Linked DNA regions of Homo sapiens. The protein of the gene in region 7 interacts with the protein of the main gene of each other region in a pairwise test. Each region holds a gene or a part of one and is shown on either strand. Other genes may lie near its edges.

Region 1 (3,500 bases), on a different chromosome or scaffold from region 7:
TTTAAAACATTCCTACACCTGCCCATTCATCTTTAGACTGCAAGGGAAGCACATGATCTTTGAAAACTGAATGGAAATGTTAATTTAGAGTGAATGGAGCTTTCAAGATCCAGACAGCACAAATTCCAAGGGAACAAACTCTTCCTACAGGGGTCACAAATTCTTTTTTGAGATGTTACTACTTGGGAAATTTTCTGTGAGAGGGAAAAATAGTATTTTTATTGGATTTGTGTAAAAATAACAGGACCAAAGAAAGTTCCTCAATTATAAAGAAAGAAGATAGAAATAAACAAATACTTCTGAAAGGTGAATTTGATGAAGTGCTTAATACAGTGGCCAATCAGAAGCTGGATTAGAAAACGTGAAAATTTATGTGATGTTTCCTACTTCCCTAGCAACCACAAAATCAGACCTAAGTCAAAATCCACCATAGGCACCCTGGAGAATTGCTATTAAACCAGTGGTAATGATCGCTTTTTCCTGGACTCCTCTTTCAAGGCTGCCAGGTCCTCTGATGGACCCCTTCCTAGGGTCCCACAGGGTGAGTCTCGGCTTGGGAGAGGGAAGTAACGGATGTGTGTGTAGCTTCGAGTCACTGAGGCACCAGACTGCAAGGTCTTCCAGTCCCCAACCCCCAAGAACACCTCCCATATCGACAGTGCCCACTCCCGCATCAAGGTCTTCTCTCAGCCTAGTGTGACACACCAACTGAGTCCACAGGGAGCTAAGGAGGAAGGGGTGGACCAAGGTCATTACGTGGGAACCATTCCAACAGCCCGCCTGATGGCTACTAGAATAACAGCAATGACACCCTGGCAATGGGCAGGAGCAGCTACACAAGAAGAATGGCAATGGCCCCGCTGCCAGTTTTGCTAGGGAAGGAGATTCACCTCAGAGAATAGGTGCGAATCCTGCCCCCATTCCAAAGACTTTACCCACCGAAGGGAGGCGCTGAGGTGGCAGGCTTGGGGCAGCATGCCGCGCCTGTGGTGCAGAACAGGAATGATTTCTAGCTAGGGACGCAGAAAAAGAAGGATGGGGAGGTGCGACCATTGGTGTTCTTGCCCACCGCCTGCCTCCACCCGCCCAAAAAAAGTGTGATGAGGAATCCAAGTTTCGAATAGATAAACCGGATGTTCCGGGGGAAAAAAAGGAAAAAAAAAGGTTTCTCCAGTCCGCGCGCCTCAGGCGTTAGAAATAGAAGGGGCGCATCCCTGCACCTCTCTAGAAACTCCCGGGAAGGAGAACCTTAGATGCGAGAGCCAGGCCAGCCCCGGGCTCACTCTCGTAAAGGCAGCAAGGGCCTGGGGCTGCGCCTCGCTCCGGATCGAGGACTCCCGCCCCTCCTCCACCTGCGGGACTGGACAGTCCCCCAGGCGCGGCCACTCCCCCACCCAATCTCCCAGGGCAGGCGCTTTTCCTTCCTTCATGACCTCACTACCTCCTTCCCTTGACGTCAGCCCCGGGTCCCCGCGCGGAGGGGAGGGAGGATGGGGATGGGTTTGGGGGCAGCCGGTGTCAGGATCCCCGAGCACCAGGGAGGAGGGGGCTATGAGGTCATGCGCGCCCAATCCCGGGCCGCACAGGCCTCGCGCTGCTGCTCCCCGGCCCCCGCCCCAACTTCCAGCCCCGTGCGGGCTGGTGTGCGCCGCAGTTACTAGGCAACCCTATCGCAGACGCGGGCGGCCGGCCAAGTTCACCCAAAGTTGAAGAAAAAATTTGGGGGAGAGAAGGTGGAGCGAGAGGCGAGAAGAGGAAGCACGGAGCGGGGAAAAGCTTGGAAGGGAATGAAGCTGGCCTTGGGCCTCCCGCTCACAGGAAGAAGGTCCCACGCGGGCCAGAGCAGCCTCCCCGCAGGGCCCTGTTGCGACCCGATCTCCGTCCTGCACCCCGGCCGGGGGCCCACCCCAGAGCGTAGCAGGGGCGCTGGGAACGACGTCCACAAAGCGCTGCCACGGGTCGAAACCCTGGAGGGTTGAGGTGGGGAGAAGGCTGTGGCCAAGGCTGTGGCCGAAGGTACGCGCCTTCGAGGTAGTCTGGCCGGTGTGGCCATTGGATGGGTTTGAGGTCTCAGAACCGAGTGGGAGTGGACTCCGTGTTTAATATTTAGTCCCGATGAAGGTAAATTCCTCCCAGTAAAGACCTTCTAAAAATAATAACTTCTCGAGCGCCGCTCCTTCTTCAGCTCGAAAGAGTAATTGTCCTCATTTTTATACAACATAAGAACAACTCAGAGACCAGGGAGATCAGCTTTAATTTCCTCTAAGTAGTAGAGTGGAGTCGAGGCGTCTCGTGCCTCCAAGACCCTGCATGCCCGCAGTCAGGGCTGCCCGGCTGGGGCGTTCCCAAGTCCGCCGGCTCATGCGTCCCCTCCGGGGTCCCAAGGACCCAGACGCAGAGCCCAGCGCCTTCCTACCTGCTGTAGGGCGTCCTCAGCAGCAAAGCCTGGCTGCCGGTGCAGCTGTCGGTGGGGGTGTGGCAGCCATAGACCGGGGGCGGCACCGAGTACTGCTGCTCACCTGCAGAGAGAACCGAAGACAGCTGAGCGAGTGCGCCCCAAGGGCTCGGGGTGCGAGGCTGCGGGCAGGGGTTGGGGGAGACACGAGATCCTGAGCCTGGGGCACTGGGGCCTGGATGAGCGGCGTGCAGAGCGAGGCCGTCCAGAATGCAAGAAGCTAAGCCTCTCACTTTGCATTCCCCTAGCAGTCGCTGCGCTGTGCACCAAAAAGGCCCTCCGGACATTCATAGACTTAGTTGGATGGCGATGTCCCTAACGTACTTGGGATGGAGGGAGACCCAGTCTTGTCCTTTAAATACAGTGCCATTGGGGTAATGATTTCTAAGGTCCTTTTAGATGTCCTCCTTTGCCTAATTTGCTGTGGGTTAGGAATTCCTGGGGGAGAGGAGGATAGCACGGAAGAAGGGGAGAAGGACTCCACTTGGTTCCGCTCGCTTACCCAGCGAGCCCTGCTGGCCCATGGGATCCTCATGCTTGAATGAGTGGTTGGGGAACTGCGCCGCATGGTGCGAGGGCGTGTGACCGTAGCTGGGCGTCCCGTCGAAGGTGACCGTGCTGTAACCTGCGGGAGCGGCGGAGAGAAGCACAGTGTCAGCGGTGCTCTCGCAAGACGGGGCAGTGGGTCTGAACCAGCCACGGGCGGGGGGGGTGTGCGCTGAACCCCGCATTCGGACCCCCAGCGGAGGAGAATCCAGCCCCACAAGCCTCCAGGACTTTCGGCAGGAAGACGGCCCAAGTCCCTGGATGTGACCTTGGGACAGGCTTCTCCATCCTTTTCTGACTAAAACCCCCACCTCGCTTTTTCCCAATTTATTTATGCCGCAGTCTTCTACGGTCTCTGCCGCTTCTGCAGCGAACCCCTGGCAAATTAAGTATAAAACTCGTTGCCTGATCGACAGAGAAGGTTGTTCACCCCCCAAAAATAAACTGCAGCTCTTCCGCAGGAGCAGCGCGGGCAAGCGAAATGAATCTGCTGGGCTAA
Region 2 (3,500 bases), on a different chromosome or scaffold from region 7:
GTGGGTGGCTGAATGGGTGGGAGGGTGGGCGGATGGATGGATGGATGAGTGAGTGGATGGGTGGATAGATGATGGATGGATGGATGGGTGGGTGGAAGGATGGATAGGTGGATGGGTGAGTGGGTGGATGGATGGATGGGTTGATGAGTGGATGGATGGATGGGTGGGTGGGTGGATGGCTGGGTGGGTAGATGCTAGGTGGGTCAATGGATGAGTGGATGGATGGGTGGATAGAATGTTGGGTGGATGGTGGAAGGAGGGGCGGGTGGATGGGTGGATGGATGGATGGATGGATGGATGATGAGTGGGTGGATGGGGGATGGATGGATGTGTAGATGGATGGATGGATGAGTGAGTGGATGGATGAATGGGTAGGTGGATGGGTGGATGGATGGGTATGTGGTTGGATGGGCGGGTGGATGGGTGTGTGGATTGATGGGTAGGTGAGTAGATGGTTGGATGGATGAGTGGGTGGGTGGATAGATGGGTGGGTGGGTGGATGGGTGAGTGGATGGGTGAATGGTTGGCTGGATGGGTGAGTGGATAGATGGGTAGGTGGGTGGATGGATAGATGGATGAGTGGATAGGTAGATGGGCAGGCAGGTGGGTGGGTGGATGGGTGCAGGTCGGTGTGTGGATGGGTGTGTGGATGGATGGGTGGGTGGAGGGATGAGTGGGTGGGTAGATGGATGGGCAGATAGATGGTTGTGTGGGTGGGTGGGTGGATAGATGAATGAGTGGGTAGGTGAAAGGATGGACAGATGGATGGGTAGGTGGATAGATGGGTGGGTGGGTGGATAGCTGGACAGATGGGTAGGTGGGTGGATGGATGAGTGGGTGGGTGGATGGTGGATGGATGTGTGGATAGATGGATGGATGGGTGGGTGGATGGGTGGGTGGATGGGCGGGTGGATGGATGGGTGGATAGATGGATGAGTGGATGGGTGGATGGTTGGGTGGGTGGATGCTAGGTGGGTGGATGGATGAGTGGATTGATGGATGGATAGATGGTTGGGTGGATGCTGGAAGGACGGGTGGATAGATGGATGGGTGGGTGGATGGGTGGGTGGATGGATGAGTAGATGGAAGGGTGGATAGATGGTTGGGTGCAGGGTGGATGTATGGGTGAATAGATGGGTGGGTGGGTGGATGGATGAGTGAATGGATGGGTGGATACATGGTTAGGTAGATGGTAGATGGATGGGTGGATAGATGGATGGGTGGGTGGGCGGGTGGGTGGATGGATGAGTGGATGGATGGGTGGATACATGGTTAGGTAGATGGTGGATGGATGGGTGGGTGGGTGGATGGATGAGTGGATGGATGGGTGGATAGATGGTTGGGTGGAGGGTGGATGGATGAGTGGATAGATGGGTGGGTGGGTGGGTGGGTGGATGGATGAGTGAATGGATGGGTGGATACAAGGTTAGGTAGATGGTGGATGGATGGGTGGATAGATGGCTGGATGGGTGGGTGGGTGGATGGATGAGTGAATGGATGGGTGGATACATGGTTAGGTAGATGGTGGATGGATGGGTGGATAGATGGATGAGTTGGTGGGTGGATGGTTGGGAGGGTGGATGCTAGGTGGGTGGATAGATGAGTGGATTGAAGGATGGATAGATGTTTGGGTGGATGGTAGAAGCATGGGTGGATAGATGGAGGGGTGGGTGGGTAGGTGGGTGGATGGATGAGTGGATGGACGGGTGGATAGATGGTTGGGTGGAGGGTGGATGGATGGGTGGATAGATGGATGAGTGGATGGGTGGATGGTTGGGTGGGTGGATGGATGAGTGGATTGATGGATGGGTAGATGGTTGGGTGGATGGTGGAAGGATGGGTGGATAGATGGATGGGTGGGTGGGTGGGTGGGTGGATGGATGAGTGGATGGACGGGTGGATAGATGGCTGGGTGGAGGGTGGATGGACGGGTGGATAGATGGTTGGGTGGAGGGTGGATGGGCGGGTGGATAGATGGATGGGTGGGTGGTTGGGTGGGTGGGTAGATGGATGAGTGTATGGACGGGTGGATAGATGGTTGGGTGGAGGGTGGAAGGATGGGTGGATAGATGGATGGGTGGGTGGGTGGGTGGATGGATGAGTGGATGGACGGGTGGATAGATAGTTGGGTGGAGGGTGGATGGGCGGGTGGATAGATGGATGGGTGGGTGGTTGGGTGGGTGGGTGGATGGATGAATGGATGGACGGGTGGAAAGATGGTTGGTGGAGGGTGGATGGACGGGTGGGTAGATGGTTGGGTGGAGGGTGGATGGATAGATGGTGGGTGAGTGGGCAGGTGGATGGGAGAATGGAGTCAGGCAGGTGTGTCAGGTGTGCGGGCAAACTGTTGGGTGCCTGTGAAGGATACTGCCGATTTGCCACAGTCCCCATTCACCTCTCACCTCCTGACACCTAGGCCAGCTGCCTCTGTGGCCATGTGTGCCCAGGGCCTCTGTCATCCTGACCCACTTCACTCATTCAGTTCTCCCAGCCCCAGTGGGCACTGCAGTGGCGGCCCCTCCTCCGTGTCCCTTGGATTTGATCACTCCAAAGACTCTGCATTCTAAGAACTCCAAGGATAAGAGGGGGAGGGAGGACAGGGCAGGAGAGTCGCTGAGACCCTGGAAAGCAGGTCCTTGTGCGGCTGCTTGGCTCCAGTACTCACCCCGAGACTTGGCCCGGCCCTGCATGGAGTAGGCAGGGGTGCAGCTGCGGCCAAAGCGTGTGACTTTGGGGTCCAAGAAGTAGATGGGGCCCGGGCTGGTGTCCTGAGGTGGTGCTGGGGAGAGGAGCCCAGAGTGCTGAGAGTGATTCTGAAGACAGTGCCTGCCCCACCGCCCGGCCTCAGTGCCCCTCTTGGCCCCGAGACACTCCCACCAGGTCAGAGGCCACCCCAGTCCCATCTCGGAGGGGTCACCCCAGGGGCCCTGAGTTGTGGCTGCCTGAACTGGGTGCCTCAGGTCTCTGCTCTGACTCTGTCTCCTCACAGTCAAAGTGATTCTGCTCTGCTGCTGTTTGTAGCCACCTCTGCCCCTCTAACCTCTGCGCAGGTGTGGGCTGGAGAACCAGCTCGTGGGTTTGTTGGAACTGGACATAATTAGGCTGGGTGTGGTGGTGCACACCTGTAATCCCAGCACTTTCAGAGGCCGAGGCAGGAGGGTCACTTGAGCTCAGGACTTTGAGACCAGCATGGGCAACACAGCAAGATCCCGTCTCTACTAAAAATTTAAAACTTAGCCAGACATGTTGACATGCACCTGGGGTCCCAGCTCCTCGGAATGCTGAAGGGGGAGGATCACTTGAGCCTGGGAGGTTGAGGCTGCAGTGAGCTGTGATCGCGCCACTGCACTCCAGCCTGGGCGACGGAGCAAGATGGAGTCTCAAAAGAAAAAAAAAACTGCACATAAAGAGTGACAAGAGCGACTAGGCTCTGAACCAGGGCTTCGGCTTGCTGGCAGGTCGCATGCTTAAGAGGGGGGCTCGGCGTTGGACCACGTTCA
Region 3 (3,500 bases), on a different chromosome or scaffold from region 7:
GGGTTCACACCATTCTCCTGCCTCAGCCTCCCAAGTAGCTGGGACTACAGGCGCCCACCACCACGCCCGGCTAATTTTTTGTATTTTTTTAGTAGAGTCGGGGTTTCACCATGTTAGCCAGGATGGTCTCGATCTCCTGACCTCGTGATCCGCCCGCCTCGGCCTCCCAAAGTGCTGGGATTACAGGCGTGACCACCGCGCCCGGCCTGTTTGATGGGTTTTGTGAACAACGTCATAATCCAAATATAAAACATTTCCGTTGCCCCCAAAAGTTCTCTCGTGCTCCTCTGTGGTAAGCCCTTCCTCACACCCAGCCCAGGCAATAGTGATCGCTTTCTATTACTGTAGGTTTGGCGTCCCTTTTTAAGAATTTCACATTGGCTGGGCGTGGGGGCTCACGCCTGTAATCCCAGCACTTTGGGAGGCTGAGGCGGGTGGATCATCTGAGGTTGGGAGTTCGAGACCAGCCTGACCACCATGGAGAAACCCTGTCTCTACTAAAAATACAAAAAGTTAGCCAGGCATGGTGGCGCATGCCTGTAATTCCAGCTACTCGGGAGGCTGAGGTAGGAGAATCCCTTGAACGTGGGAGGCGGAGGTTGCGGTGAGCCGAGATCGCACCATTGCACTCTAGCCTGGGCAAAAAGAGCGAAACTCCATCTCAAAAAATAAAATAATTTCACATCAATGGAATCATATGGAATGAATACTTTTGTGTCTGATTTATTTTGCCAGATGACAATGTTTTAGAGATTCAAGTGGTTTTGTGTATCCGTAGTTGATTCCCTTTTTCTTTTTTCTTTTTTGTTTTTTTGAGACAGAGTCTTGCTCTGTTGCCCAGGCGGGAGTGCAGTGGCACGATCTTGGCTCACCGCATCCTCCGCCTGCCAGGTTCAAGCAATTCTCCTGCCTCAGCCTTCTGAGTAGCTGGGACTACAGGCGCCTGCCACCATGCCCTGCTAATTTTTTGTATTTTTAGTAGAGACAGGGTTTCACCATGCTGGCCAGGCTGGTCTCGAACTCCTGACCTCGTATCCGCCCGCCTTGGCCTCCCAAAGTGCTGGGATTACCAGTGTGAGCCACTGTGCCCGGCTGCCGCCGCCGCCGCCGCCGCCTTTTTTTTTGAGATGGAGTCTTGCCAAGTGCAGTGGTGTCATCTCGGCTCATTGCAGCCTTGGCCTCCCGGGTTCAAGCGATTCTTCTGCCTCAGCCTCCCAAGTAGCTGGGACTGTAGGCATGTACCACCACACCCAGCTAATTTTTGTATTTTTAGTAGAGACGGGGTTTCTCCATGTTGGCCAGACTACCTGAAGTGATCTGCCTGCCTCAGCCTCCCAAAGTGCTGGGATTATAGGCATGAGCCACCGCTCCTGGCCAGTTTATAGTTTTCTTATTTTTTATTTTATTTTTATTTACTTATTTTTGAGATGGAGTCTTGCTCTGTTGCTCAGGCTGGAGTGCAGTGGCACAATCTTGGCTCACTGCAACCTCCACCTCCTGGGTTTAAGCAGTTCTCCCTGCCTCAACCTCCCGGGTTTAAGCAGTTCTCCCTGCCTCAACCTCCCGGGTTTAAGCATTTCTCCCTGCCTCAACCTCCCGGGTTTAAGCAGTTCTCCCTGCCTCAACCTCCCGAGTAGCTGGGACTACAGGCACATGCCAGCATGCCCAGCTAACTTTTTTTTTTTTTTTTTTTGGGACAGTCTCACTCTATCGCCAGGCTAGAGTGCAGTGATCTAGGCTCACTGCAACCTCTGCCTCCTGGGTTCAAGCGATTCTCCTGCCTCAGCCTCCCGAGTAGCTGGGACTACAGGCGCCCGCCACCACGTCCAGCTGATTTTTGTAATTTTAGTAGAGACGGGTTTCACCATGTTGGCCAGGATGGTCTTGAGCTCCTGACCTCATGGTCCACCCGCCTCAGCCTCCCAAAGTGCTGGGATTACAGGCGTGAGCCACCGCGCCCGGCTTATTTTTTTGTATTTTTAGTAGAGACGGGTTTTTGCCATTTTGGCCAGGCTGGTCTTGAACTCCTGACCTCAGGTGATCCGCCCCCCTCAACTCCCAAAGTGCTGGAATTACAGGTGTGAGCCACCGCGCCCGGCCCAACTTTCATTTCTTTTGCGTATGTACCCAGAAGTAGGATATGCCTTCTTTTTTATGTTGTGTGGCTGACAGAGTTACGTTCTGTTCTGTAACGATGTTCACATGTCAGTCTTTCTATCTACAGAACCAGGCAGTGTGTGTAAAGTAGGTTTCCTCATCTGTGGGTCCAGTGTCCCAATTCCTGCCTCCTACAAATGATGTTCTTGGCTGGCTTCAAGTTCAAAGGCTTTCCTCCTGTTTCATGCATCATCAGTCTCCTTCATCACGTGAATTTTTTGAACTTTGTCATCCTATGTGTTGTGTCGTTCTGTTTTCTTTATTTCTTTTTATTTATTCATTTATTTTTGAGACGAAGTCTTGCTCTGTCGCCCAGGCTGGAGTGCAGTGGCACCATCTTGGCTCACTGCAACCTCTGCCTCCTGGATTCAAGTGATTCTCGTGCCTCAGCTTCCTGAGTAGCTGAGACTACAGGTGCATGCCGCCACGACCGGCTTTTGTATTTTTAGTAGAAATGGGGTTTTACCCTGTTGGTCAGGCTGGTCTCGAACTCTTGACCTCAGGTGATCCACCCGCCTTGGCCTCCCAAAGTGCTGGGATTACAGGCATGAGCCACTGCGCCCGGTCTCTTTTTTTTTTTGAGACAGAGTCTTGCTCTGTTGCCCAGGCTGGAGAGCAGTGGTGTGATTAGAGATCACTGCAGCCTCAAACTCCTGGGTTCAAGCAATCCTCCTGCTTTGGCCTCCCATATGTTGGGATTATAGGCGTGAGCCACCATGCCCAGCCCTTCCCTGTTTTCTTTTTCCTTGGCCACCTTCCCCTGCTCATCTCTCTGCTCTGACAGCTCCTACCATCTTTCCTTCCAACTTCTAGGAATGTGCTGGCTGACTGTGAGCTCTCTTTCTTGGAAATGCCTTTCCAGCTCCTGTCCCAGGCTCACAGGCATCTCAGTGGCTTACTGTGTCACCTGCGCCCTAGGTTGGTTGTCTAGACCCCACACCTCTGTTGTCCTAAGGCTGGGGACCCTCACGGTCCCAGTGCTGCCTCCTTCCACACTCCCAGGCCCTGTGCCACTGGCACGTCTGTCCGCAGGTCCCCTTCCCACAGCCCCACCTAGACCGAAAGGTCTGTGTCTCTGTGAGGAAGTGAATACCGAGTCAGAGCAAATCCTGGGTTACAGCGCCGACCCCTCTGAAGCTCACTTTTGTGATTTTGGTTTCCTCACCATTGTACTTGACAGACCTTAGTTGCCACATCTACTCCGTGGGGGTTATGGCCCATTAGAGCTATGAGGCTGAATGAGGCAGTTCATAGGGAAGGCTGCTTGTGGCCCTGGCTTCTAGAAAGGTGTGATTTGCAGGGGCTGCTAGGAGCCCTCCCTGCCCTCTCTTCCCTTTCTTTTG
Region 4 (3,500 bases), on a different chromosome or scaffold from region 7:
TCCTTAGTCTTAAAAGCCAGAATCCTTGCTCAGGAGTTAGAGGACAGCTGCCCTTCCGAATGATGGATTCTCTGACAACTCCAACTGTCCATTTTGTCTTCTTTGCTACTTCTACTTCCCAGTACCACTTTCCAGAGGTGAAGCCTCTTGAGCCCAGTACAGCCACACTTGAGTCAAACCTCTCAGGATCATCAGGCATTATCTTCTTAATGTCACCATGCCAGACGCTGGTTTGGCTTTTGGAGAGCACCAGATTTGGGTGAGCTGTTTTAGGGTCCAGAGTTAGTGGAGACAGGCCTAGTAAGAAAATAAAAGAAAGCAGAGCATGGGAGAAAGGGGGGTAAACACAAATTCCCACAGTAAAAGATAGTATTTCATATTCAATAGTACTTTATCTCCCCATACACATAGACTCTTAGACAGGCAAGCAATTACTTATATGCTTTTTTTTTTTTTTTTTTTTTTTTTTTTTTTGAGGCAGACAAGGTTGCCCAGGGCTGGAGTGCAGTGGTGCGATCTCGGCTCACTGCAACCTCCGCTTCCTGGGTTCAAGCAATTCTCGTGCCTCAGCCCCCCAAATAGCTGGGATTACAGGTGTGTGCCACCACACCTGGCTAATCTTTGTAATTTTTTAGTAGAGACAGGGTTTCGCCATGTTGGCCAGACTGGCCTTGAACTCCTGGCCCCAAGCAACCCACCTGCCTAGGCCTCTCAAAGTGCTGAGATTACAGGCATGAGCCACCGCACCTGGCCACTTACATGCTTTTTATTGTTTGGGTATCCATGTTACTATATTCTAGACATTTTTATATTTAGGGTAAAAATCAGGGTTTACTCAGAAGTAATTTATGCTCTACTAAAGGAAACAATACAAATAATATAAACCTATACTAATAAATATAAGAAAATACAAATGCCAAAGGGGTAAAAATTAGGTAAGGATGTTCTAGGAAAGCTTTCTGAGGAAGGTAAGTATTCAGTTGTATATACATGAGATGTATTTAGGATGTTTTGAATAAACGGAAAGAAAGAAATGGATTAAAAACAGTCCCCTGTGTGGAAGAGAACACAAGAGCTTGCCTGTTAGACACAGGCAAGACTGAACTAACTGGTACAGAGTTTAGAGGACAATAGTGAGAGGTTTATTTTGGTTTAACAGATAATGAGATTTTTGAGATCTAGAGTGGTTTATGTCATTGCTACTCATAATGTGGTCCACATACCATGTGGTTAACAGTCTCGGACAAAGATAGTATAGAAATTAACAGTAAACTTTTAAAAACTTTCATAGCAAATTGACAGTAATTTTATGTCAGTTGAATCTAATAATTACAAAATTGGGCTTGTACTTTGTAATCTTTGCTTTTTTTAATTTTACTTTTTCAAGTAATTTATATTGTATTCTACAAAAGTATCAGTCCATGACAGATTGAGATTTTTTTGATTGGCCCTTCATCACAGATAATTTTACAAGCATTGGTTTAGACAATTCAAAGGGCAGCAGTATAAAAAAGAATATCTAAACTAAATGAAGAGAGGTTGAAAGCTGACCAGCAAGAGGATGACACAAATTCCAGATGTGAGATCATTGGACCTTGACATGAAATTTGATAAAGGAGACCTAATAGCTATGTGTGTGCACACCATGGACACAGATACATGTATGCATGCATTTGTTGTTATTGGATTTATTTATCCTTGGAAGCAGAATCAATCTAGTTTCTCTCTCTCTGTTTTTTTTTTGTTTGTTTGTTTGTTTTGTTTTGTTTTTTTTGAGATAGATTCTTGCTCTGTCCCCCAGGCTGGAGTGCAGTGGCACAACCTCGGCTCACTGCAACCTCCGCCTCCTGGGTTCAAGCAATTCTCCTGCTTCAGCCTCCTGAGTAGCTAGGATTACAGGCATGCACCACCACGCTCAGCTGATATTTTTTGTAATTTTAGTAGAGACAGGATTTCACCATGTTGGCCAGGCTAGTCATGAACTCTAGTCTAACTCTATCTTCTCAGAAAAGCCTGAGTCTTTTCCATTATCCCAGGGACTTCTCTTTCCAACAAGAGGCTTTGAAGAATTAAGAATCTTGAATTTTTCCATATAGGCTAAATCCCTATCCCCTTACATATCCCCATTCACTTTGGGTTGTTAATCTTTCTGATGTGAGGACTGGGTTTTCTTTGGAGGTACCATAAAGACTTTTTAGCAACGTTTTGGAATCCCACTCTGCTCTCTTTGCTAAGCCTCTGACACATCTCTAGCTAGTTCAGCCTGCACTGGCTCTGAAGATTCCCATGAGTCAGCTTTTTGTCCTCTCTTTCCTTCTCATGCCACGTTCATATAACGAAAAGTTCTGTCAGCTCCACCTTCAAAATATATCTTGTGCCCAAACACTTCTGACTACTTCCAGAAATATCACTGGCCTGGAACTACTGCAATAGCTTTTTACTCTTCTGTTTCCTCTCTTGCCCATCTGCACCCTATTCTACACATATCATGAATGAGATCAAGCCATTTCCCTGCTCAGCATACTCTTATGTTTACCATCACATCTGAGATAAAATCCAGAGTCCTTATAGAGGAAAAAAGAGCCACATGATTTACCTACCTCTCTACTTCATCTCCTACCACACTTTCCCTCATTTACTTTGATTCATCCACCCTTGTCTTTTGGCAGTTCCTTGAACATAATGAAGATCATTCCTACTTCAGGGTCCTTATAATTTCTTCCCTTGTCCTAGAATGCTTTTTCCCCATATGGTTCACTCCACATTATTTGGGCATTTGTTCATGCAAATATTTTAAATTGAAAAATTCCCTAAGCTAGAGTAGGCAAACTACAACCAACAGGTCAAATCTGACCCACTGCCTACTTTGTAAGTAAAGTTTTATTGGAGCACATTTATGACCATTCATTTATATGTTGTCTGTAGCTTCTTTTTCACTACAAGAGCAGAGTTAAGTAGCAGCAACAAAGACCATACACCTGCAAGGCCTAAAATATTTACTCTTCAAACCTTTACAGAAAAGTGCCAGCTCCTGCTCTAAAGCAACAGCCTAATTTATAAGGCTGGCAGAAAAGGAGAATATATGGATCTACAAAATAAGCAAAGACTTAGAAATAAAAAGTATGGAATATATTTTACAAAGGTCTGACCACAGTTACCATAGAAAAACAATTTCCCACTCTGTATAGAGGGAGAGTATATGGATAAATAATACATTATTAATAAATAGTCATATATTAAATAAATCTCATTTGGTTTTCTTGATGTAAAATTATACCAAAAATTTAAAAATCAGTTTGCATTTTAAAAGATTGCTAGAAGTGAAGTTTGGCTTTACAGAGCAAAGTATACAGGAAGAAAAACTCTGTCATACCAAGGCAGCTACAATTTGCTAAGCAGAGTAACACAGAGGAGGGAACTTCACAGAAACTTACAAACATCTACAAAGGGATTCTCTCAAGGCTGTGGCTGAGTACTAATCTGCACATGCATGCAGTGAA
Region 5 (3,486 bases), on a different chromosome or scaffold from region 7:
GAATCACTTGAGGTCAGAAGTTCAAGACCAGCCTGGCAACGTGGCAAAACCCTGTTATCTACCAAAAATACAAAAATCAGCCGGCATCGTGGCACAGGACTGTAATCCCAGCTACTCGGGAGGTTGAGGCAGGAGGATCGCTTGAGCCCAGGAGTCTGAGGCTGCGGTGAGCTGAGATCATGCCACTGCACACTCCAGCCAGGACAACAGAGCAAGACTCCATCTCAAAAAAAAAAAAAAAAGAAGGGGGGTGGTCCTGAGACCAAAACATTTAATAACTGCTGGTTTATTAGGTAAATCAGCAGTTCTCAATTTTAGTAATCATAAAGAGTTATTATAGGCCGGGCACGGTGGCTCACACCTGTAATCCCAGCACTTTGGGAGGCCGAGGCAGGTGGATCACAAGGTCAGGAGATCGAGACCATCTTGGCTAACACGGTGAAACCCTGTCTCTACTAAAAATACAAAAACAAAATTAGCCGGGTGTGGTGGCGAACGCCTGTAGTCCCAGCTACTTGGGAGGCTGAGGCAGGAGAATGGCGTGAACCCGGAAGGTGGAGCTTGCAGTGAGCTGAGATCATGCCACTGCACTCCAGCCTGGGCGACAGTGAGATTCTGTCTCAAAAAAAAAAAAAAAAAGTTATTATAACTCTGTAATAATCTAACATATCTAACATATATGTGTAGCTCTCTTCAATCTTTTAGCTTATAAAATTACTGCATTTAGGCTGGGCACAGTGGCTCACACCTGTAATCCCAGCACTTTGGGAGGCCGAGGCAGGTGGATCACTTGAGGTCAGGAGTTCGAGACCAGCCTGGCCAACATGGCAAAACCCTGTCTCTACTAAAAACACAAAAAATAGCCAGGTATGGTGGCGGGCGCCTGTAGTCCCAGCTATTCAGGAGGCTGAGGCAGGAGAATTGCTTGCACCCAGAAGGTGGAGGTTGCAGTGAGCCGAGATTGCACCACTGCCCTCCAGCCTGGGCGACAGAGCAAGACTCTGTCTCAAAAAAAAAAAATAAATAAATAAAAATAAATTACTGTATTTATACATAAAAGTGTTTGAATATCAGAAATCACTTTTCAACCTAATAATATTATCCATTTACTATATATCTTCAAATCTAAGACTTCTCTGGAAGCTGCAGCATTACTTTATATATTAATACAAATGGGAAAAACACTCAGTTAAAATCATAGGACACTGTTGACTGTAAAATGCATCCCATTTTTGGAAATGTTCAAATGGGGGGAAAAGGTGCATCCTAGGTCAATGGAACACGGTAGATCTTGCAGTGCCTCCTAAGTAACCCTCTGTATATTCTTTCATTCATTCAACCAATATTTATCAGTTAGCTGCTCCAAGCACTTCACAAGAATGGTCTCCTTTAATCTTGACAACCATACTATGGGAGGAGGTGTTATGATGATGCCCATTTTACAGCTGAGCTAGCTGAGGCCCAGAGAGGTTGCTGGGGTCACACAGCAAGAATGGGGGCAGAACTGGGATTCTGCAACCAGGCAGTCTGGCTCCAGACCTGTTCCGGGTCACGCTATAAACGCAGTGACTAGGCCAGTTGCGGTGGCTCACGCCTGTAATCCCAGCACTTTGGGAGGCTGAGGTGGGGGGGGTGGGGGTGCGGATCGCTTGAGGTCGGGAGTTCGAGACCAGCCTGACCAACAGGGAGAAACCCCGTCTCCACTAAAAATACAAAATTAGCCGGGCATGGTGGCACATGCCTGCAATCCCAGCTACTAGGGAGGCTGAGGCAGGAGAATTGCTTGAACCCAGGAGGCAGAGGTTGTGGTGAGCCAAGATCGTGCCACTGCCTCCAGCCTGGGCAACAGAGCAAGACTCCATCTCAAAAAATAATAATCATAAAATAAAATAAAAGCAGTGACTAAGACAGACAGAAATGCCTGCCCTCGTGGTGCCAACAGTCTAGCAGGAACACAACAGTGAACAGAACACGCCAGGAAAACATAGGCATGCTGGAAGGTTGTTTCTTTCTTTGTATCTACTTATCCCTTCTCAACCACTGTCTCCCATCCTCTCTGCCCCATTCTCCACCTGGACCTTTCCCCACTGCCTCCTCCGAGGCCTGGGGTCTCATGGCACTGCGTGGGTGGGGGAATGCTGCTATATACAGCACTGGCTAGAGCCACCAAATGTGAGTTAACTGGATACCGCCTAGTCTCCTGCCACTGTAAGCTTTTTTTTTTTTTTTTTTTTAAGAGAGTCTCACTGTATCGCCCAGGCTGGAGTGCAGTGGTGCAATCTCAGCTCACTGCAACTTCTGCCTCCCAGGTTCAAGCGATTCTCCTGCCTCAGCCTCCCGAGCAGCTGGGATTACGGGCACGCACCACAACACTCAGCTAGTTTTTGTATTTTTAGTAAAGACAGGGTTTCACCATGTTGGTCAGGCTAGTCTCGAACTCCTGACCTCAGGTGATCCTCCTGCCTCGGCCTCCCAAAGTGTTGGGATTATAGCCATGAGCCACCATGTCTGGCCCTACCACTGTAAGCTTCTGCAGGTCACAAGGTCCGGAGAAACGAGTCTGGCCAGGGTGGCTTAGGGAATCAGAGAGTGGAGGCAACCAACTCAACCCTAAGTCTGAGTTCCAGTCGAGAAATCCTCTGCTCTTTCCTTTTCATGTCTCTCCAAGGAACTCTTTCATCATGTCTCTTTGAATCTCTGTTGGCTATTTTTGCCGTTGTGTTACCCGTCTCAGTACTAGTACCCATATTCCCCTCTCCCATCTCCCTCCCCACCCCCGCATTGTTTTCCCTTCTGTCTCCACCCTAACCTCTTTTGCTCTTCCTGCCCACCCTCGACCCCTCCCGAGTCCTCTCCCATCTTTCTTTCCCCTCCATCTCGGCCCCTGTCTCTCTCTCCATCCTTCCATCTCTTTCTCCCTTCCTGGGCACTCTCTCTCACTATCCGACTCTACCCCACTCCCCTCCCAACCCCAACTCCCACCTTTCTTCCTCCTTCAGCCCATCTTCTTGTCTTTTTTTTTTTTTTTTTTTGAGATAGAGTCTCACTCTGTCACCCAGGCTGGAGTGCAGTGGCTCCATCTCGGCTCACTGCAACCTCCGCCTCCTGGGTTCAAGCAATTCTCCTGTCTCAGCCTCCCAAGTAACTGGGATTATAGGCATGCACCACCATGCCCAGCTAAGTTTTGTATTTTTAGTAGAGATGGGGTTTCACCATGTTGGCCAGCCTGGTCTTGAACTCCTGACCTCAAGTGATCCACCCTCTTCGGCCTCCCAAAGTGCTGGGATTACAGTCATGAGCTACCATGACGAGCCACCATCTTCCTATCAATCTATCTATCCATCCATCCATGCATCTATCTATCTATCTATCTATCTATCTATCTATCTATCTATCTCCCTCCCTTCAACAAATCCATTCCCCCTCACCCCAAGTCTTACAGTGAAATTGCAGCCACAGTTACTCCCTTCCCCCATGCAGGCTCTC
Region 6 (3,500 bases), on a different chromosome or scaffold from region 7:
CAAGTTAGATTTTTTTTTTTTTTTTTTTTGCACTTCAAGTACCTGACATCATGGAGTGCTATTTGTTGGTGGCATTTTTACAAAAACTTCATAGTTATGGTCTCTATTAACATAAGATGGAGGAATATTCGTTAATATCCCTTTAAAATAGCCTCTAAATTTACTCAGAGCACAGACCTAGATCTTGCTAAGGTTTTGGGTCATGACCAAAAAGACTGTTTCCTTCTTTAATGGAACTGACAACGTTAGCAGTTCAATTTTACCACCATTGGATTTGCAGCATTCTAACATTTATTTGGCTAATGCCAACAGTTTAAAGATGGGCTTGGCAGCATTTCGACCAGCTAGCAAAATGTGCTATAGAAATTAGGCTTAAAAAAAAATTTGTCTTCATATAAAACCCAGGTTAATTGTTAATGCCCTAAATTGTAGCTGGGACGTCTCATCAAATCAAGAGAGCTGGAGTTTGTAGAGCAGCCGAAGGAACTGGGTGATGCCCATGATGTGCAGATTCACCTCCGGTGCTCTCAGGAAAAGCAAGCCCGTGTAGACCATCTCCACAGACTGGCCCTTTCCTTAGGAGTCGACATCATCTCATCAGTGCAGCGGCCTGTAAGCATCTAATAACACTATCATTTAGACTCAGTTCTAGCTGGGGCTTGGGCTAGCATATGAAAGAAACCAGGCAGATTGCTTAGTATATGTTAAATTTAAAAATAAACTAAACCATTGGGGTAGTTATTTGTGATTCATTTCTACCCTCTGACAAAAGAAAAAATTTTAAGTAGAAAATCTGAATGTAAAAGTCTTGTTGAATACCTCTATTTTCATGAAAAAAAATTTTTAAAGAGTATTTATATAGTAGATCTGTATAGTCCAGTGTGGCAGTCACTTTTTTGCCTTTGATGTGTGCCTAATGCAACTAAAAAACTAAAGTTTTAATTTTATTTAACTTGCATTAATTTAAATATAAATTTAAAAATTGATCTTCAGTATAGTTATGGGACAACTTTTAAGTATGTTGGGAGCAATTTGGGTATGGGAATCAACTTTCGAAACTGTAAATTTAAAAAATTAAAATACAGATCTAATATTTCTGATCGAAATTTAGCAACAAATGAGGAAGCTCAAAGTATGAAATACACACCAGATTTCAAAGAGGTATTATGAAAAGCAATCACATTAGTATTTTTTATATTACTTACATGTTAAAATGGTGATATTTGGACATAGTTGGTTATTGTATTATAAAAATTAATTTTGCTCTATCTTTTTATTTGATTTTTTGATATGACTACTAGACAATTTTAAATTGTTTGTGTGGTTCACATTTTGTTGGCCAGTGCTGTTTTAGCATTGCAGATCTGGAAGACCATCTAGATCTTAGAGTTCATCCAGGCCAGAGCTATCATTTTATGGATGAAGAATTTGAGGCAAACAGAAATTCCCACCTTACCCATAAAAGCCCAGAATGGAGGAGTCCAAGCCTCCTGATTCTAGCCAGGGCTGGTTGGATTTGTTTGATGCCACTGTCGGACTTCAAAAGAGAGGCCTAAAAGAGAAGGAAATATTCCCAGATCAAATTTTCATCAATAATACACTGGACATTGATTCTTTAAAAAAATTCCTTCTTTAGCCTGGGCACATTGGCTAATGCCTGTAATCCCAGCACTTTAGGAGGCCGAGAAGTTCAAGTCCAGCCTGGCCAACATGGCAAAACTCCGTCTCTACTAAAAATACAACAATTAGCCAGGCGTGGTATTACGTGCCTGTAATCCCAATTACTTGGGAGGCTGAGGCAGAAGAATCGCTTGAACCCAGGAGGCGGAGGTTGCAGTGAGTTGAGATCCAGCCATTGCACTCCAGCCTGGGCGACAGAGTAAATAAGACTCCATCTCAAAAAAACAAAACAAAACAAAAAAACAGAAACAACAACAACAACAAAACAAAACAAAAAAATCCTTTTCCAGATTTCTAACTTGAGGGGAGAAAAGATTATGTTTACTCTAACAATAGGTATAACATTAATAAAATCATAATGGCCCATTTTATTTTAAAATACATGTAAGATATCCACTAAACTATATGAAATGCAGTGAATCTAAAATATGTATTTTTTAAACTGAAAGATATAGAAATACAAATTATCTGTTGTTGTTAATGGAATTGGTTTTTTGCCAGGAAAGAGCTTTCTTTTTAAAGAGTTTATTTTATTAGTACATTTATTTTTAAAAGAAAAAGAAAGCAAGAAGTCTCACTTTGTGCAAATAATGTAAATTGTTCTCCAATCCTCTTCTGGCCTTGGCCCTGGCAGCCCCACTGTGCTGAGCTGAGATTGGAGCACTTGCATAATGAACCTGAGGTTAGGCTCAAGTTGACAGGAAAATTATAGTGCAGAAATCAAATGTTTCTAATGCATATTTTATGCCTTTTGAAGTAAAAATTATACCCTATAATGAATGGCGTCTCTGAGGAGTTGGGTGTGATGAGCGAATCTTCAACACTAGAGATTTGAGCTGGGAAATGTCTTTTCCATAATGTTGGGTGACTGGCTTCTTTCTGAAATAATTATGTTCAAATATGTTTAAGGTAAAATAAATCAGGAACCTATTTCTTTTTTTAAAAAGTGTCATTTATGAGTTTCATAATTCAGGTAAATAGCCTACTCGTCTTATTGCTGTTTCGTCCTTTCTCTCTGTTACCACCATTTGTCTCTTTTAGCACTGCTCTAATGTTTCTGCAAAGAACCTACAGCAGCAGCTGGAGCTCCTTGAGGAGGACAGCATGAAGTGGCGTGCCAAAGCTGAGGAGTATGGACGGACCCTGTCCCGTAGTGTGGAGTACTGCGCCATGAGAGACGAGATAAATGAGGTGGGTGTGGGAGGGGTGAGAACTGGCACATTGCCAAAAAGCTGTTTGAACCTAAAGCATGTGTCTAAATGTCCACATTTGTGCACACTCCCACACACATGCAAACACACAATGAATCAGGAGACTTTCTTCTCACTTATTTCTTTTAATCCACTGAGCAGTGACCTCAGGGATCTGGAAGTTTGAGTAAACTTCAAGCTCTCAAATTTGTTGAAGTCAGTATGATGTCAATGCATAGAAAAACCTATAATTCAGTAGTACAGTTTTTTTGGTTGCTTTTGTTTATTTGTTTTTTGCTTCCCCCTTCTCCCTCAAACCTGTATAGCAGTCATTTGCTTCAGTGGATACAGCTTTTTCAGGACCCAGAGGAAGGGGTGACATTGACCAGTTCGTTGCAGCCAACTCCAGCCTGCTGAAATTCTATTTAAGGGTCATTGACTCATGGTGAATCAATGGTGCCAGGGGCCAGGGAGCAGACACTTTGCTTTGGAGGCTACGAAGTATTAGCACTGAGGTCAAGTGGCTGGTTTCATATTTATTCAAACTGACTGGCTTTTCTGGCAAAACAACTCTTCAAGAAAAAAGAAATAACAGATCAAAGTGATCTTCTACATCCATGCACCTCCACA
Region 7 (4,239 bases):
GAAGTTAAGCTCTTAGCATTTCCTTGGCACCCTGAGGCCCGTCTCAGCCCCTCCAGGCCCTTCTGGGATCCTCAGCAAGCTGGGGGTGGAGCTGTAGCCTGGGCCTTGTGCCAGTAGAGGGCAGGGCTGGGGCCAGGCAAATGCTGGGGGCCAGTCCCACTCAGGACTGTTCTAGAAGCAAGGGCATGTAGGTGGGGAAAGCAGGGTTGAGAGAGGGCTCCAAAAGTCACTCACAGACTCCTCACTGCTGGGAGTTTTTGCTGCCATCTTACGGGGGACCTTTTCCAGGATGGGCGTCTTGGTGAGTCCTGGTGCAGGGATGCAGAGGTGTGGACCTGGGGACCAAGAAGTGGGAAGCATCAACACAGCAGCCACATAGGCCTGTCACAAACCCTCCACCTCCCGCCAACAGACCCCCACCCCAGCCCCATGAGGAGGCCAGAGCCTGACAGCTGTGTATAGGGGTCTCATTGCAGGCGTGGCCCCAGTCTCTACTTCCACCTGTACGTGCTGACCACAGTGTTCTCTCTGGGCCCCCATATGGGAGAGAGTGGTTCCTAAAGTGAGGGTCTGCTCTCATGAGTCTGTTGTCACCCAAGGCCAGCTGACCACCCTGGGGCAATCCAAATCCACCAGGGGTTGCTGGCAGAGTGCTGCCTTTGTTCCTGCCTGGAACCCAATAGATAAGTGCTTTGCCAATCAAACTCTCTCTTTCCCACTAGCTTCTCAAGGGTAAGACCATACCTACTGTGCTCAGTGCTTCATCTCTGCATTCCGGCCACATCTCTGGTGTGGAGTAGGGTGAATTCCCTCACTCCGTTGGTGGAGGGAAAGGAATGCATGCGTGGGTGAATGGAGGCCTTTAAGGCCCTGTGCTCCAGGATGCATCTGGGCTAATTGGGAGCCTGGCCTGTGGCCAGGGCAGGGAGACTCTGGGCCTGCTGGAGGCGTTGTGACCTAGGCAGTCTCGGGTCTGCAGGCTGCCAGTGTAGATGCCATAGGAGTGCCCAGGGAGGTATGCAGGGAGGCTGGGCAGCCAGGGCCCCTAGGGGCCACCTGCCTTAGTCTGGGGAGAGGCAGATTAATTTTGAAGGTACAGTAGAAGTGAGCCAGGCCAAGAGGGCAAAGACTGTTATTATTAGGCTGTGGGTCACAATTGCTACCCTCTGAGATCCCCCTGAACCTAAGCCTCCACAGGCACATACTCATGTTTTCCACCAGCCCACCCTCTATTCTCTCAAGTCTAAAGCTGAGGTTTAGCTAATTTCCTCACCCCTCTCCCCACCCAACACCACCCCTACCCAGAGGCAAGCACCGCCCATGTATGGGCACCTGGCAGGGTTGTTGCCAGGAACAGAGAGTCCAGAAAGATGGATGAACCAGGCCCAAGGATGGAGGAGCCTGGGGCTGCCTTGCAGTGCTGGGCAGAGAATGTAAAGCCCTTGCTGGCACAGTGCAGGGACACTCTCCACAGGCTTGTTCCCACGCCTCCCAGTGCTGTGGGTTCGTAGGGGCTGCCCCCAACTGCAAAGTGAAAGAGGTGGCGTCCTGGTGAGGATTCACCGGAGCATGGCAGTCTTTTGAGAGGACAGCAAGGACAAGGTCAGGTTGGTAAAGGCCCTACAGACCATGCAGCCAATGCCTCCTTTTGCTCTGGCCCAGAGCCCCCCCCTCCCCCCCATTCGGGAGACACTAGTCAGGCTTCAGGGACCCTGAGCTTGAAGAAGGCAGAGCTGGGTGGGATGGTTTCCTGGTGGTCCCACCTACCAACTCTTCTTCCTCCATCACTCCTGGGCAGATGCCTAGAGGATGTATGTGTATATATGTCTGTTTGTGTTTTGTGCCTCCCACCCATGCTCCTGCCAGCCTGGCTTTCCAAGGGCTGCCTGCTCTGCCCCGAAGGTCCAACCCCAGTCTGGCCGGTCATTCACAGGCTGTCATCGGCTATGTCCTGGCTCAGACTTGCCACCAGCCACTGCTCCTCCTTCCCCACCCCCTGCTCCCGGGAGAAGCGGTTGCCAACCAGCAATTCAGGCGAGTCGGGTCAGACCCAAGGACCCTCCGACTAGACACAGAAAGCGCGGACCTGGTCACTTAGCAGATGCTGGGCCAAGTGAAGTGAGAACATGCGCTTGGAGTCCCGAAGCCCTGATGGTTAAGCCTCCCCAAGCCCAGGCACCGAAGCAACGCAATCCTGCAGCTTCCTAGCTGACCCCCGACGGCCGCTGCTGCGCAGGACTCAGAGGACTCCACGAGTCCTGGGGCCTCTCGGCCCCGGTGCTGTCCCTGGATAGAGCCCCCGACCGCCGCCCTTGCTCCCGGCACCGCGCTCCGCCAGCCCAGCCCAGCCCTTCTTCTCACCTGCTCTCCTCGGCTCTGCTGCCTCGGCCGACGCTGCACCGCACCACTCAGGAGTGTGGGCGGGGGTGTGAGCCGGAAGGGGTGGGGGGCGTGTCGCAGCGCGGGGGTGGGGGCTGCAGCCTGGGTTCCCGGCAGGGCCTCCGACGTCGCCCGGGTCCCCGCGGCCACCCGACTGGAGAAAGCAAGCTGGCCGCACTTCTCTCCTTCCTCTTGTACCTCCTCCCTCCTCTCTCTTCCATTTCCCCCCTCCCCCAAGCCCCCTCTTCTTCGCTGTCCTCAGCCCCATCCCTTCCCCAGCTCCCCGCCCAGGGATCTCAGCTCCCGGCCCCCAGAATCTACCCGGAGCGCTTCCCGGAGGAACTCGGGCAACAAATTTAGGCTCTAGAAGGGGGCACAGAACACTGTCCCGCCCATGCCTCCTGCCCCTAGCTCAGCATTTCCCAGTCACCGCACTTCCCCAACCCCATTATTCCAGCCTTGGGGTGCTGCTGCTGAATCCTGGAGAGGGTTGGGTCTGAGGAAGTCTCTGCTCGCTGCCCTCCTCTCCCCACCATCCAGGCCAGTCTCAAACCCTGCTACACCATCTTTCAAAATAATAATAAGAAACAATAACTGGGATCAATATTCACTGCAGGACTTCCCTTTCTGTTACCATCCCATTCCTGCTGGCACTATGGGGTGGGGAGCAGAGGTGGGGTGCTACAGACTTGGGACAATCCTGATGGCAGACCTGAGGATGCTTAAGGACTGCGGCAAGAGGCAGGCTCTCCTCTCAGACAAAAGCATCCCCCACCCCAGATAGAGACCCCCACACAGAAATAGCACAGACAGACCGACAAAGGCAGACTCCGCCCAGGCACACACAGCCCGACTCGCAGATCGAGGACAGACATGCGCACAACAGCAGAGCAGACCCTCACAGGCGCAGCTAACACACAGGCGACCCTGACCAGCCGCCTCTTCACGCTATGATGGGAAGACTCTGCCTCGATCATCAGACTACGGTCTTCGGGACATGGAGTGTTGCGCGAACGCTGGCTTGAGGCTCTCAGGGCTGGGACTAAGGATGGGAAACTTTCCTGACAGTCCTGGGCCGCTGCTCCCACTCAGGACAGGGTGGCAGTGGGGGTTGGCACCAGATCCCACACTCGCATCTCTCCCTTCAAGACTCAGACCCTCGGGACTGACAGGGATACAGCAAACACCAACCACGGCTCCCCCACTCCTCCTAGGACAAGTTCTCTAATGAACACACACATCACATCATACACACATTTCCAGAGGTCGGACTCTAAAAGATGGGCCGTTTTTCTTCCTCTGCCGGAATGCTCGGCTCCTACTCCTTTCTCAAAGCCTCAACGGGGCGGGATTCTGGTCTGAAGGGAAGCTCAGCCCAGGCACCTCAGAGCTCTGAGGCTGGTGTGGGGCGTGTCCTCAAAGGGCGGGGCCTGGCGTGCCTAGCTGGAGCGGGTCCTCAGGCTCCCCCGGGCGGCATCCCCGGGCTCTGCGCTAGGCCTGGAAAAGAGGGTCTATCCTGGGCTGAGGGGAGCATGGTGCTCCTTGGTGACCGTGGGTGACAGCCTTTGTTGGGTTTGCTTCCTTCCTATCCCCTTTTCCAGGTAGAAAAACAGCTACAGGTGCCTACGTGTTAGTTTGGCTTAGGTCTGGATTGGGACTTGGAGACCCAGTTCACCCTCCCCTCTGCTCTGGCCCTGCGCGCCTCCACGCACCCCCCACCAGTAAAGAGACTCGGCCTCCTGGGACAGACACAGTTTATTGATTTGGGCGGAGGCGCCGCGGTGCAGCGGCCCAAGTTTGGCACTGGGAGCAATGGAAGGAAGGACAGACAGATGCAGGCTCTACACAGGGGAGCCGCAG

What was found.
Region 1: the proteins of CHAT (region 7) and WT1 interact in binary tests that used the Homo sapiens proteins (3 or more experiments, as listed by UniProt).
Region 2: the proteins of CHAT (region 7) and CIMAP1D interact in binary tests that used the Homo sapiens proteins (3 or more experiments, as listed by UniProt).
Region 3: the proteins of CHAT (region 7) and PPP1R16A interact in binary tests that used the Homo sapiens proteins (3 or more experiments, as listed by UniProt).
Region 4: the proteins of CHAT (region 7) and TRIM69 interact in binary tests that used the Homo sapiens proteins (3 or more experiments, as listed by UniProt).
Region 5: the proteins of CHAT (region 7) and FOXA3 interact in binary tests that used the Homo sapiens proteins (3 or more experiments, as listed by UniProt).
Region 6: the proteins of CHAT (region 7) and CCDC141 interact in binary tests that used the Homo sapiens proteins (3 or more experiments, as listed by UniProt).

Annotation. Positions count from the first base shown.
Region 1 is NC_000011.10:32,425,540-32,429,039, forward strand, and holds part of WT1 (Wilms tumor protein), read right to left. Parts: intron 3,081-3,500; coding exon 2,958-3,080; intron 2,520-2,957; coding exon 2,417-2,519; intron 1-2,416. UniProt on the Homo sapiens protein: Transcription factor that plays an important role in cellular development and cell survival. Recognizes and binds to the DNA sequence 5'-GCG(T/G)GGGCG-3'. Regulates the expression of numerous target genes, including EPO.
Region 2 is NC_000019.10:464,984-468,483, forward strand, and holds part of CIMAP1D (protein CIMAP1D), read right to left. Parts: intron 2,780-3,500; coding exon 2,666-2,779; intron 1-2,665.
Region 3 is NC_000008.11:144,480,982-144,484,481, forward strand, and holds part of PPP1R16A (protein phosphatase 1 regulatory subunit 16A), read left to right. Parts: intron 1-3,500. UniProt on the Homo sapiens protein: Inhibits protein phosphatase 1 activity toward phosphorylase, myosin light chain and myosin substrates.
Region 4 is NC_000015.10:44,764,028-44,767,527, reverse strand, and holds part of TRIM69 (E3 ubiquitin-protein ligase TRIM69), read right to left. Parts: intron 298-3,500; coding exon 1-297.
Region 5 is NC_000019.10:45,867,326-45,870,811, reverse strand, and holds part of FOXA3 (hepatocyte nuclear factor 3-gamma), read right to left. Parts: intron 1-3,486. UniProt on the Homo sapiens protein: Transcription factor that is thought to act as a 'pioneer' factor opening the compacted chromatin for other proteins through interactions with nucleosomal core histones and thereby replacing linker histones at target enhancer and/or promoter sites.
Region 6 is NC_000002.12:178,865,138-178,868,637, reverse strand, and holds part of CCDC141 (coiled-coil domain-containing protein 141), read left to right. Parts: intron 1-432; coding exon 433-612; intron 613-2,721; coding exon 2,722-2,871; intron 2,872-3,500. UniProt on the Homo sapiens protein: Plays a critical role in cortical radial and GnRH neurons migration during brain development. Regulates cortical radial migration by negatively controlling the activity of histone deacetylase 6 (HDAC6) and promotes centrosome maturation.
Region 7 is NC_000010.11:49,612,598-49,616,836, reverse strand, and holds the start of CHAT (choline O-acetyltransferase), read right to left. Parts: upstream 2,801-4,239; 5' UTR 2,648-2,800; coding exon 2,362-2,647; intron 815-2,361; exon of another isoform or gene 785-814; coding exon of another isoform or gene 745-784; intron 336-744; coding exon 235-335; intron 1-234. UniProt on the Homo sapiens protein: Catalyzes the reversible synthesis of acetylcholine (ACh) from acetyl CoA and choline at cholinergic synapses.